Linked DNA regions of Homo sapiens: all the other regions are linked to region 1. The links come from fine-mapping of genetic effects on gene expression. A gene starts in region 1. Each other region holds a variant in brackets. All regions are shown on one strand. Distances are between the middles of the regions. Region 1 holds the start of CHST11 (carbohydrate sulfotransferase 11). Region 2 overlaps CHST11 (carbohydrate sulfotransferase 11). Region 3 overlaps CHST11 (carbohydrate sulfotransferase 11).

Region 1 (4,000 bases):
ACCTAGTGCTCACAGCGCAGAGGAGGAAAGTTGCAATTTCAGGTGAGAAAACAGCAAAGACTTCTTGGGAGAGGTGGTAGCTTATGTGTCACAGCCTTAATCCTCACTGTGTTTGGGCAGGTTCCTGATTGTGGGAATGCAAGAATGGATGTTGGGCATGATTCACCATCCTCCCCCACCATGTGGGCCAACTCCATGATCTCTGTGACTCACAGGGAATTGGACTTCTGATCTCTTCCTTGACCCTGTGACTTCCCAAACTGCCTTGTGCATGTCCAGGCTTTGGGGCAGGTAACTGAAGTCTTTGGCCTATGAGGTGAGAGGTCACTTGGGTGACCTGGGAGTAAATCCCTTCCCCTCCCTGGCTCTGTAAAGCCAAGTGTTAAATGAGAGACTTATATTCCAGGCAAAGGCTTTGTGCAAATGCCCATCTAAGCCATGCCCTCTGCAAGGAATCCCCTTTCTTAGTGATGATGGTGGGGAGGTGGGGAGGGTGCAGTGCAACTCCCATTCCTGATCTCCTATCACCAGAGCAGAAGAATCACTGGAGAACGACTCTGTCTGAAGCTTGTTCAGCCTGGCTTCCTTGAGCAAGCAACTTATTCACAGGTAAGTCCAAATTAATACAGCGCACACCGGCTACATAAATATTGTGCTTTGATTGTCTTCTGTAATCAAAGGCAAGGCTGCTGAGTTTGTTACTTTCCCCACCATGCAACTGCTGGAGGAGAACTCTGGGGGAAGGGAACTGAGGTTGCCCAGGTGGTTTTTGTTGCATGTGTCTAACTGCAAGTTGTGTCTCTGTCTATCGAGGGGAGGATAAGGCCCATTACATTCAGATTCAATAAGAATTTATCAAATGCCTATTTTGTGAGAGGCATTGAAAGACACAGTATCTTATTTCATTTTTAATTGAATTAGTAATGACTTGATAAGGCACAAAGGTTAGTCTAACTAACATTTTTTTTTTCCCTGACATACGAGTGATCCCTACACTATTGGCTGTGTCCACTTTATTGATTGTGAAACAGCCTAAATGCATGGAATTGGAAACTGGAAGTCATTCTACACAATACAAGAAAGCAGCACCATCTTTCCATGTACCTGCCAGTGCTATGGCTGGCTTGGCTTTTCCAGCAGTTTTCTGGACTTGGTTGAGGTGGCTTCCTAGGGGCATTTTCTCACCCCCTCCCAGCTAAGACTGCTGTTAATTTTGAATAATTTGGAGGATGCTCTACCCTTTGGGGTAGCAGAGTTTTGCAACCCACAGATCCCTTTTGCCTTGAGGAATGGTGGTGATGGTGGGTGTCAGAGATTCTGTCTGTATAAGTCCCCGGGAAAGCTCAGCTGTCGCCTGACCCGAGGGTCGTGCAGTTTCCTTAACCCTGACTTTAAGTCAGCCCTCTTTAACCCCGACTCCCAAGCTGGGCTGTCCTTTGAAAGAAAAACGAAACCGCCCAGTTCTGAGCGTCGGAAAATGGGCACTCGCTCCCTGGGGGTTTGGGGCAACTTCCCCGCTACGTCGCCCAGGGATTTTAAATAATTGCCAGCCACCAGAAACCCCCTAACCCTTAATTCTTCCCTCCGAGACCCAGCCCGCTGCTTGCCACTTCCCTCTCCAAACGCTGGCGGGGGTGGGTGGCAGCACCGAGGCGATTTTCTTCGTCTTTTTTTCCTCCGGGTTTTGTCATGGAAACGCTGACACAACCTCCAGACGGCGGCCGAGCCCGGCCGGGGACTGAGGGCTTTTGGGACCCTGCGGGAGCGCGGCGCGCACACCGCACTCCCCGGGCAACAGCTGGACGCGACCATATCCCGGGTAGGGGCGGGGGGAGCGCGACGCTCCGCCCCGGCGCTAGGGTCCCTCCCTCCTCCCGGCTCTCCGCAGGCGCCCTCCCCTCGCCGGGGGCCGCGAGTTGCATTTGGTAAAACCCAGCCCCGGAATATATAGATCGTTGGAGCGCAATGAAGTAGCCTTTGGAGAGAAGGGAGAGGGCCCGTCGGACAGCCACAGCGGCCAGCGCAGCGGCAGCGGCGGCGGCACCACCATCACCGCTCGCACCCCAGCCGCCCGGCCCGCGACCAGGCAGCGGCGGCCGCCGGCGGGATCGGAGGAGGCGGCGGAGCGGCGAGGAGGAGGAGCAGGAGCGCGCAGCCAGCGGGTCCACGCATCTCAGCACTTCCAGACCAACTCCGGCACCTTCCACACCCCTGCCCGGGCTGGGGGCTCCGAGAGCGGCCGCGAAGCGACTCCGATCCTCCCTCTGAGCCTTGCTCAGCTCTGCCCCGCGCCTCCCGGGCTCCGGTCCGCGCGGCGGGGTCCCTGCTCCTGCGCCCCGGGCGCGCTTCCCGGACACCCCGGTCCCCGCAGCCAGGACAAAGCCATGAAGCCAGCGCTGCTGGAAGTGATGAGGATGAACAGAATCTGCCGGATGGTGCTGGCCACTTGCTTGGGATCCTTTATCCTGGTCATCTTCTATTTCCAAAGTATGTTGCACCCAGGTAGGGGGCGCGTTAGCGTGGTTTTGTTGGATATTTTCTTCTCTCTCGCGCTCTAGCTCGCTCCGCCTGATTTCTGCCTCTTCCAACCCTACCTCTCCGCCTTCGGCCTCTTCGGGGCTCCTGGCTGCCCAGAGCTCCTGGCTGCCCAGATCTACCCGGGTCACCGCGTCGGGATGGGGAGGAGAAGGGAAGGTGTGCTTCGCCCTCTTCTTCCTACCGGCTCCGGGCTGGAGGATGGGACCAGGAGGGGCGGTAGTTTTTTTTTTTTTTTTTTTCTTCTTCTTTTTTTCTTTGTGTCCCTTGTCTGTCTGTCTGCGAGGTAGCAGGGAAACGGAGAGGTGTGGGAAGCAACCGGGGGTGAGGGGCTGGTTTGAGGAGAACGAAACTCCCTCCCTGCTGCTGCCGAGGTCGGAGGATGAAAGAGTTACCCGGAGCCGGCTGCTCTGCGCCCGGGCGAGCCGCCTCTTCCTGGTTGCCGGGCCGGGGGCGAAGGGTGTACGCCCCGGCGAGGTTGCGAGTCCCTGCAGCAGGCTGGGAGCCCGGGACTGGGCTCCCACGTGTCCCGGGCTCCGCGCAGAGCTGAGCAGGTGTGGAGAGTGGTCGGGTGCCCAGCGTTGCCCCTCCACCACGCGCCGGCCGTTTGCCCCCGGGGTCCGGCTCCGCAGTGACCTTGCGGCTGGTGCCCCGGGGCCTGCTCCAGCCCCCAGCCCTGAGCTGGAAACTCCGAGCTCCTGGGTCACGCCTTGACCACTGCAGTTTTGGAGGAAACTTTGGCCAGGTCCTGGGCTGACCGTCCGTTTGCATCCCCCACTTCTGGGATCCGAGCAACGGGAATCCCCCGGGCGGCGTGGGAATGAACCCCATTCCTCCGGTCCCTTGTGGCTCAGGCAAAGTTCCACGTCCGAAATCTGGACTGGGGGAGGGACGAGGCTCGTCGCTTCCTAGGGGTGCGAGGGAAAGTTTGGGTTCTGGAGAGGGAGGGGCGCCCTCGAGCGCGGCGGCCGGGGGTGAGCAGCTCGGCTGCGAAGCCCAACAGGTAGAACGTTCCGAGAAGCCTTCCGGGTAACGCGGGTCTCCCCGCCAAGCCGTGGCTCCCCTGCTCCCTTTTACCCTCCCTTAGCAGCCCCCTGCCGGGCCACGTTGGCTCAGAAATCCATTTTCTACGCCTCCGAGTTGCCTTTCTCAGCGTAGTCACAGCAATAATTTGCTTTTCTAATTGCAAGGAGGAGGGAGGTGGAAACGCATTTCCTTCCAGGGAAGTGGGGTTGGTGTTTTTCATTTTTGCCTCCCGCCTTCTCCTTTCACTGTGTATCTAACACTTTAAACAGACGCAGTCCCGAATTCATCAAGCCTGCGTTTGGGTCGATGGCAGAGGAATAAAGCTGTTCTTTCCATCAAACAGGCAGGGCTGCAGGCTGCAGATTCCTTGACAGCGCAGGGACAGACGGCCCCTTTGCCCCACTCGGTCTGGAGCAGTTGTTAAGGCAGCCACACTGCC
Region 2 (4,295 bases), 87 kb after region 1:
GTTTTGGCATCACCTCTTTCTTTCAAATCCCCCTGTTGGGCATAGGATATTTACTTTGAATGAATTTGTCTGAATTTTAGAGACTCTCTTGCTTTGCTCCATCTCATGGGGAAATTGGGAAAACAAATGAGAAAAAGGGCAGTGCAAATAACTTCAGGTCAGCTAATCTGGAGGGGAAAGAAGTGTCTTAGGAGTAAAGATGGTTATTAGTTAGGCACGGAGGCAGGTGCCTGTAATCCCAGATACTCGGGAGGCTGAGACAGGGAAAATTGCTTGAACCCAGGAGGCGGAGGTTGCAGTGAGCTGAGATTGCGCCACTGCACTCCAGCCTGAGAGACAGAGCGAGACTCCGTCTCAGAAAGACTGTCAGCTACCAGTTGCTATACCAGAGGTAATAACTGAATGATAATACCCCTGCATTTTACTTTCTAGCAACTTTCATGTCCACTATTTCATTTTTAACATCTTGGATGTGTAGGACCAAGTTATGATAAGCAACTAACTTCATCTTTCCTCAATTGAGAAGAGTGAGGCATGCTTCTAAATGTAGTGTTGAACATTGTGGAGGATATGCTAACATTTTAGAAATAATCCAATTTAGCCACTGTGGGAAATGGTATGGCAGTTCCCCCAAAAATTAAACGTAGAATTATCATGTGGTCCAGAATTCTACTTCTTGGATATATACCCAAAAGAACTGAAAGCAGGGACTTGAATGGATATTTGTACAGCTATGTTCATAGCGGCATTATTCACAATAGCCAAAAGGTGAAAACAACTCACGTGTCCATCGAGGGATGAATGGATAAACCAAATGTAATATAAACATACAATGGACAGCTATTCATTCAGGCTTAAAATGAAAGAAAATTTTGACACATGCTACAACATGGGTGAACCTTGAAGACATGATACTAAGTGAAATCAGCCAGACACAGAAGGACAAATACTGTGTGATCCAATTTCATAACAATGTAAAAAGCACAGGGTATTTTGGGAGAGACACACATGAAACTGGTATCAGTGATTATGCAAAATAGTCTAGGACCTGGAGCCCCAGTGTCCAGCACATAGTGTGTGTTTTAGAAATACTAATGAGTAGACAGTTGTTGCCTGGGTAGAGTGGGGATAGTGGGGAAGACCTATTTTTCACTGTATAAACCTTTTAGTGCCTTTTGGTTTTCATACCATGTGGCTTCGTTACCTCTTCAAAACATTAACCCTTTAGATCCAGTGGCAGTGAAGGTGGTAAAGGGAGATGTAAGTTCCCATTTAGGACATTTTAGGACCCCCAAGGGTTGTTACCCTAAAGAGTAGTTGATGATTAAATTAAATCTCTGAACCATCCTCATGCCGAAGGGGTGTTGACAGGGGACAGTGGCAACCAGTGTGTTAGTCCATTTGTGTTGCTATAAAGGGATACCTGAGGCTGGGCAATTTATAGAGGAAAGAAGTTTGATTGGCTTACAGTTCTGCAGGCTGTACAAGCATGGCACCAGCATCTGCTGAGCTTCAGGTGAGGCCTCAGGAAGCTTCCAGTCATGGCAGAAGGTGAAGGGGAGCCGGGGTGTCACATGGTGAGAGAGTGAGCAAGAGAGAGGGGGAGGAGGTGCCAGGGTCTTTTAAACAACCAGATCCCATGTAAACTCACAGTGTGAGAACTCACTCATTACCAAGAGGATAGCACCAAGCCATTCTTGAGGTATCAGCCTCCATGACGCAAACACCTCCCCCTAGGCCCACGCCCAACATTAGACGTCACATTTCAACATGAGATTTGGAGGGGACAAACCATCCAAACTGTGTCATGCAGTATTTTTCCAGGCTTAGTTTTTACATTAGCAGGACAGGCATTTTTGGCAACATGTCATATTTTGTGTTTCCATTTGCTCCTGATAGGGGAGGAGACTAGTGGTCTCTTCTAGCTTTTTATGCTTTTAAACTGTTTTGCAGAGAAATGTGGTGTTTTCCCCCAACCCC[T/C]TCCCATCCTTCTCGTCCCTGGACTCGGCTCAGAGTCTTACAGGAGTCCAGGAGTATAAGTTGAGGGAAATTAATGCATTTGGTTGGATCCTGCCTGATGTACTTTATCTATCAGTGGCATCATGAGACCTGACGACAGTCACTGAAGTCACTGTATACTTTTTTTCACCTCTTCCTGCCTCTTCCCTTACCCATCTCCCCTGCCCCGGTAACTAACAGATTCCTTCCAGTCAAGGAGCTGATTATTATATTTTTCCCTTTACTTTTTTGGGGCACTGCTAAAGATGTATCTGAAGCAGGGCATGGAGGTATGCACCTATAGTCCCAGCTACTCGGGAGGCCAAGGCGGGAGGATCCTAGGAATTCAAGACTAGCCTGGGCAACATAGCAAGATCCCCATCTATGCAAAAAATTTTAAAAAATTAGCCGAGCCTGGTGGCATACACCTGTAGTCCTGGCTACTCGGGAGGCTGAGGCGGGAGGATGGCTGGAGCCCAGGAGTTTGAGGCTGCAGTGAGCTATGGTTGAATCACTGCACTCCAGCCTGGGCAACAGAGAGAGACCCTGTCTGTTAAAAAAAAAAAAAAAAGAAAGAAAGAAAGAAAGAAAGAAAGAAAGAAAGAAAGAAAGACCTGAAAAGAACTAATTAACGCTCATACATAGAATTTTTGATGAGAACCTTCTGGCTCTAAAGAAAGTATTGGTCAACTATACTGTCTAGGCTAATTTCTTAGAAAATAATGAGCATAGTTAAGGATAACTGAGAAAATGTAAACTATGGAGACTGTATCCCATGTCAAAATTAAAAAATTGGTGGATTGATAGGGAGAGAGGAGGATAAGGGAGAAAATGTATTTTGCCATTGTAGAAATCAGAAATTTGGGCCGGGCACGGTGGCTTACACCTGTAATCCCAGCACTTTGGCGGGGGGATCACCTGAGGCCAGGAGTTCGAGACCAGCCTGGCCAACATGGTGAAACTGTGTCTCTACTAAAAATACAAAAATTAGCTGGGTGTCATGGCAGACACCTGTCATTCCAGCTACTCAGGAGGCTGATGCAGGAGAATCAGTTGAACCTGGGAGGCGGAGGTTGCAGTGAGCTGAGATCGTGCCACTGCACTCCAGCCTGGGTGACAGAGGGAGACTTGGTCTAAAAAAAAAAAAAAAAAGAAATCAGAAATTTGAGCAGTCAATGATGTGCCCTGGGGGTCACAGTCCCCCCACCCCGGAGATAATGGATTTGGTGCTTTCTTTTTGATTTTTCAAAATAATACTAAAGTCATTTTCGCTTCCCTCTGAATTACTGCAGTAAATTTATATAGGGTGGATGTTGGCCTTGCCACAGCAATTATGTCGTTTCGAAGTATGCCATTGTTTTGTCCTGCAGCTGAAAAATGGGTGGGTTTATTAGGTCCACAGGGCAGCGTCCTTGTTCTGAGAAGAGGGAGGCATGCAGGAATGGCCAGCATTCCTTTTTGTTGGGCTTGTCCCTGTGGATGGCAAGAATCCCCTGGAGCCAGGCACAAATCCTGTCTGAGCAGCCCTATTATTACCCTGCAGAGTAAAAGGGAGACAAAGACCCAAGGTGAATTTCGTTACAAATTGAAAAGCAAAAAAATCAATCCATTCATTGCCTTCTTAAATTCTCTGTCATGTTCCTCCACACTCAGAGGTTTAAGGACCATCAGGGAATGGCCCGTTTGAGGGTGGGGAGGGCAGGGCCCAGCCCCATGAGCTGCCTCAGGGCTTCTGCAGAGCTGGCCACATGTTGGGCTTTATTGACATCAGGTGTTGTGACCCATGGACTTGATCAATCATTTCGGCCTTCCCTTGTGGAGCCTGTCCAGGAGAATGGATGTGGACTGTGTTCTGATGGAGGAAAATAAATTGTTCTTGGTCAGGTTTTTGAAAATAACAGTCCTTGTCTCTCAGGTGGGCACATGCTTGGCTGATTGATGGAATATCTAGAAGCCTTGGCTTAAATATAGAACAAATGATATTGAGCTACTTAATCTTACTATCACTGTACCAGGTTCCATAAAGATGATGCCTTGGTCAGCTCAGGCTGCTGTAACAAACAAAGGCACGTTTCTTATAAACAATAGAAACTTGTTTTTCACAGTCTGGAAGCTGAAACTCTGGGATCCAGGTGGCAGCTAGTTGGTTGTTAGTGAGGCTCTCTTCTGGGTTTGCAGATGGCTAACTTCTCACCATAGCCTCACATGGTTGAGGATGGCTGGAGAACTCTCTAGGGTCTCTCTCTCTCTTGCTCTCTGTCTCTCTTTTTTTAAAAGCAGCATCTCACTTTGTCACC
Region 3 (4,295 bases), 200 kb after region 1:
TCGGGAACATAGGGAGAACCTTGCTCAATAAGCATCTGTGTCTGCCTTGGCTCAAGCTGGAGCAGGGTGTCCAAGGCAGCCTGGACCCGAATAAAGACACGCTTTATTTCCCCTTCAGTTGACGGAGGGGGATTTTGAAGGTAGCAGGGGAAACAGAGTGAGCAGTGTTCAGGGACGCAGCCCACCTTCCTGGGTAGTTTTCCACTGCAACAGACCCGCCGAGGCCAGCCAGCCAAGGATACTCAGAGTTTTACAAGCATGCTGTGTGGACTGGGGCGGGGGCTGGCTTAGAGCCCCCTATGCCGCCCCCAACCTGCAGTGCCTCTTGGTGAGGAGAGGAGGCAGGATGAGCGTCTGCAATCATTGCCATGACAAAGTACCAGAGGCCGAGGGACTTAAATAGCAATTTATTTTCTCACACTTCTGGAGGCTGGGAGTCTAAGATCAAGGTGTGGTCAGGGTTGGTTTCTTCTCAGGCCATGAGAGAAGGGGCTGTCCCAGGCCTGTCTCCTTGGCTGGTAGATGCACCTTCATGTTCACACAGCAGTCTCCTTGTGTCTCTGTGCAAATTTCCCCCTCTTGTCATGATACCAGACACATTAGATTGGGACCCCACCCTAAGGACCTCATTTTCACTTGATCACCTCTGTGCAGACACTATCTCCAAATAAGGGTACTGTCTGAACGACTGGGGGTTAGTACCTCAGCATGTGCATTTTGGAGAGACACAGTTAATTCATGACAGCGTGTACCTTACATTCCATGGTGTTTATCTGGAGAGGGGGAGGTAGCCCTGGGGACCGTAACTCTGGCACTTCCTAGCGCCTTGATGATTGGCTTTTCTCCTACCTTCTGCTTCCATTCTCCTCCTCCCAGACTCTCTCATCCAATAACCCCCGCATCTGTACCCTGTTCGCTCCATAATAATGATAACTACTCCTTAGTAGTTGCTTCTTAGGTGCCAAGCAAAGTGCTAGGCATTTTATTTTTATTAACTCATGTAATCCTCATGATGACCCTTGAAATAGGCTCTATTGCCGTTCTCATTGTATAAACAAGGGAACTGAGGCACAGAGAGATTTAGTAACTTGCCCAAGGGCACGCTGCTAGTAAGTGGTGAAGCTGGGATTTGAACCCAGGCAGTCTGGCTGCAGAGGATACTTTATAAACCACTTCTACTTCACTTAATAGGCGTAATATTCCACTTGAAGCCCTTCACATCTTACCAAGGGCTCCCAAAACGTTCTCTCACTTGATCTCCATCAAAAAAGAGCACCATTGGAGGGGCTCAGAGGAATGGGTTCTAACATGTGATGTGTCTGGATCCGTGCTCAAGAACTGGGATGATGCCATGGATAAGAGCACAGCTCTGTGTTCTGCATCACAGACTCTGCATTGACTAGCTGTGTGACTTTGGGCAAGTGATGTAGCCTCTCTGTGCCTCACTTTCCTCATCTGCAAAGTGGGGTGACAGTCTCTTAGGGTTGTTTAGGGAGGATTCCTTGAGGGGCTGGCACATGATAATTGCTCAAGACATATGATCGTTGGTGATAATATTACTTCTCCGTATCTCTAAGAGCTTCCGGGGATCTCCAAGAGCCATCACTGCCCCGATCCTCCATCCCCACAGTGCAGAGCTGTGCTGCTCAGGGTGGTAGCCCTGAGCTCCAAATGGCTGCTGAGCACTTGAAATGTGGCGAGTGTGAATTGAGACATGCTGTAAGGGTTAAATACATACCATATTTTGAAGAATAAGTACCAAAAAATGTAAATGATCTCATGAATAATTTTTATATTGATTTTATGTTGAAATGAAAATGTTTTAGGTATGTTGGGTTAAATAAAGATATATTATTAACATTAATTATGGCCAGGCACAGTGGTTCATGCCTGTAATTCCAGTGCTTTGGGAGGCCAAGGCAGAAGGATTGCTTGAGGCCAGAAGTTCGAGACCAGCCTGGGCAACATAGTGAGACCCCCCCCCGCCCCCACCATCTCTACAAATAATTTTTAAAAATTAGCTGGGTATGGTGGCGTGCCCCTGTAGTCCTAGCTACTAGGGAGGCTGAGGTGGGAGGATTGCTTGAGCCCAAGAGTTTGAGGTTACAGTGAGCTATGATGGCACTGCCGCACTCCAGCCTGGGCAACAGAGTGAGACCCTGTCTCTAAAAGAAAACGAATTAATTTCATTCTTTTACTTCTTAAAATTGTGGCTATTGGAAAGCTTAAAATTAAATATGTAGCTCACATTATACTTCTATTGGACTGTAC[T/C]GGGCTAGACTAGAAATGAGACGCTCCAGGGACCACATCTGTTTTGCTTATCGCTGTATCCCAGCACCTAGCCCAGATCCTGGCTTTACAGTAGATGCTCAGAAAATACTTGTTGATGCTGTTTTGATTGTACAGATGCTCTGTTCTTAGCCCCAGAAAGGTCTCCTGGGTACCACGCCAGGACCAGAGGAAAGTCTTTCGTTCCCAAAGCTCAGGGAAAGGGCTACAGGCTGGGTTTTTAGCTCACTGGGTCTCTGCGGCATTGCCATTGCCCACGGGCTTGGCGCAGGTGGGCCCCCAGCTGAATGGCTGGGTTTGATGGCAGAGCCACCGTCTTGCTCTTCAGCCCAAGGGAAAACATGGCTATGGTAGTTTCTTCTATTTTCAGCACATTAGAGAAACCAACTTTGTATGGAGGACATGAAAGCTCATTTCATAGGCCAGAGGAGGCCCGTGAAAGAGAACACTGTGTGCAAACAGCAGGAGAGAAAGACCCGAAGGAAATTTCCATCCCGGCTGAGGTCCTCTCCTGGACTTGGCTGCTCACAGGAGCCTTGTGAAGATAGAAGTGTACTCCTTCTATCCCAGGCCCTTTTTCACACCCCCTTCTTCTCAGAAGAAAATCCGAAACCCAGCTCTTGTAAAGGGGTGCGTATCTGCCATTCCTCTTTGACCTTACATTTATGAAAACTGAGTCTAGCTCCACCTGCAATCTTGATCAATCCCAAGATTTGAGGCCACTGGGTGGAGCAATACAGGGAAGGAGTTATAGTTAAAGGATGCTGGAGTTCAAAGGGGTCTTAGTCTAAACTACTTACATTTGGGGTTTCTGTGGTTCTCATCCTTCTGTGACATCTCTGCTGCTATTGAGGGCTCAGCATGCAAGAGAAATGAGCCTAGATGACCACATCCTCAGCTCGATCCACTCTGTCCACTTCCAGACTGCCATGAGCCTGGGAAGGGTGATGTAGCTGAATCTATGAGAAGAGCGATTCACCTGTGCCCAAATCCTGACATAGCTTCGCCTGAGTTCTGTGTCTCTGAGCAAGTGACAACTTCTCCGAGACTCAGTTTCCTCATCCATAAAAACGGAAGGAGTAGCTCTTGCCTCATTTGTCAGTGGGGTTAAATGAGACAATATGTAAAAAGCAGCAAACAGGCCAGGCACAGTGGCTCACACCTGTAATCCTAGCACTTTGGAAGGGCGAGGCGGGTAGATCGCTGGAGATTACTAGTGTTTCCACCTCCTTAAGCCCAGGAGTTCAAGACCAGCCTGGGCAATATGGTAATACCCCATCTCTACTACTACTACTACTACTAATAATAATAATACAAAAAATTAGCTGGATGTGGTGGTATGCACCTGTAGTCCCAGCAGCTTGGGAGGCCGAGGTGAGAAGATCACTTAGCTTGGGAGGTTGAGGTGGGCTTTGAGTGAGCTATGATGGCGCTGCTGAACTCCAGCCTGGGCAACAGAGTGCAGTGGCACCATCGCTGCACATTTTAAAAAGCAGCAAACAGCGCTTAGCATGTGGTAGACATTTAGGAAGCAAGAGAGCCCCTTCTCTCCTGGGTCCTGAGTGCTAGTTTTTCTGTCTCACTCTCCTCTGCCTCCTGATACACAGCAGTAGTGGTGAAGGTGCTCCTGTCTTTGACCAGGACCCGGGATGCCTGGTTTCCTAGCAGCCACATGATTTTCACCCCAGTTTAACCATACCCAGTGATGGGGTCTCTTCCACAACAAAATTTGGATAAAGTATTCTGGAAGTTGGAGATGACTAGTGTTTCCACCTCCTTGCTTTTCAGAAAACACCTGTTCTTTCTATTTGTGTCAGGATTAGAACATGGAATCTTGGCAAAAAGAAGATGTTACTTTTAATTAAACATCCTGAGCCTCGTTTCTCAGTCTGAGATGAATCAGTGAGCTCCATCTGGGTGGAGGTGAAGGAGAGCAGGAAATCATTTTTAATAGAAATATAAACTCTGATGGCCACAAGATTAAAGTCAAGGATACGTGTTGGTAA

The links. PIP is the estimated chance that this variant, and not a neighbour inherited with it, causes the effect.
Region 2: its variant is the best candidate, but not a certain one, in a credible set for the expression of CHST11 in pancreas (GTEx, PIP 0.56).
Region 3: its variant is the best candidate, but not a certain one, in a credible set for the expression of CHST11 in transverse colon (GTEx, PIP 0.70).

Annotation. Positions count from the first base shown.
Region 1 is chr12:104,455,028-104,459,027 of GRCh38, forward strand. It overlaps CHST11 (carbohydrate sulfotransferase 11), which reads left to right and starts at 1,921. Exons shown (of 3, transcript NM_018413.6): 1 at 1,921-2,502. The coding sequence starts at 2,385. RefSeq lists enhancers at 1,590-1,639, 1,660-1,739, 2,660-2,709 and silencers at 1,810-1,939, 2,020-2,189, 2,230-2,509, 3,100-3,239, 3,400-3,459.
Region 2 is chr12:104,541,573-104,545,867 of GRCh38, forward strand. The region is part of intron 1 of CHST11 (carbohydrate sulfotransferase 11); the gene reads left to right. Among named protein-coding and RNA genes, the nearest start is that of MIR3922, 48 kb to the right of the region's middle. The variant T/C (reference allele first, on the strand shown) is at 1,981.
Region 3 is chr12:104,657,816-104,662,110 of GRCh38, forward strand. All of the region lies in intron 2 of CHST11 (carbohydrate sulfotransferase 11), which reads left to right. Among named protein-coding and RNA genes, the nearest start is that of MIR3922, 68 kb to the left of the region's middle. The variant T/C (reference allele first, on the strand shown) is at 2,272.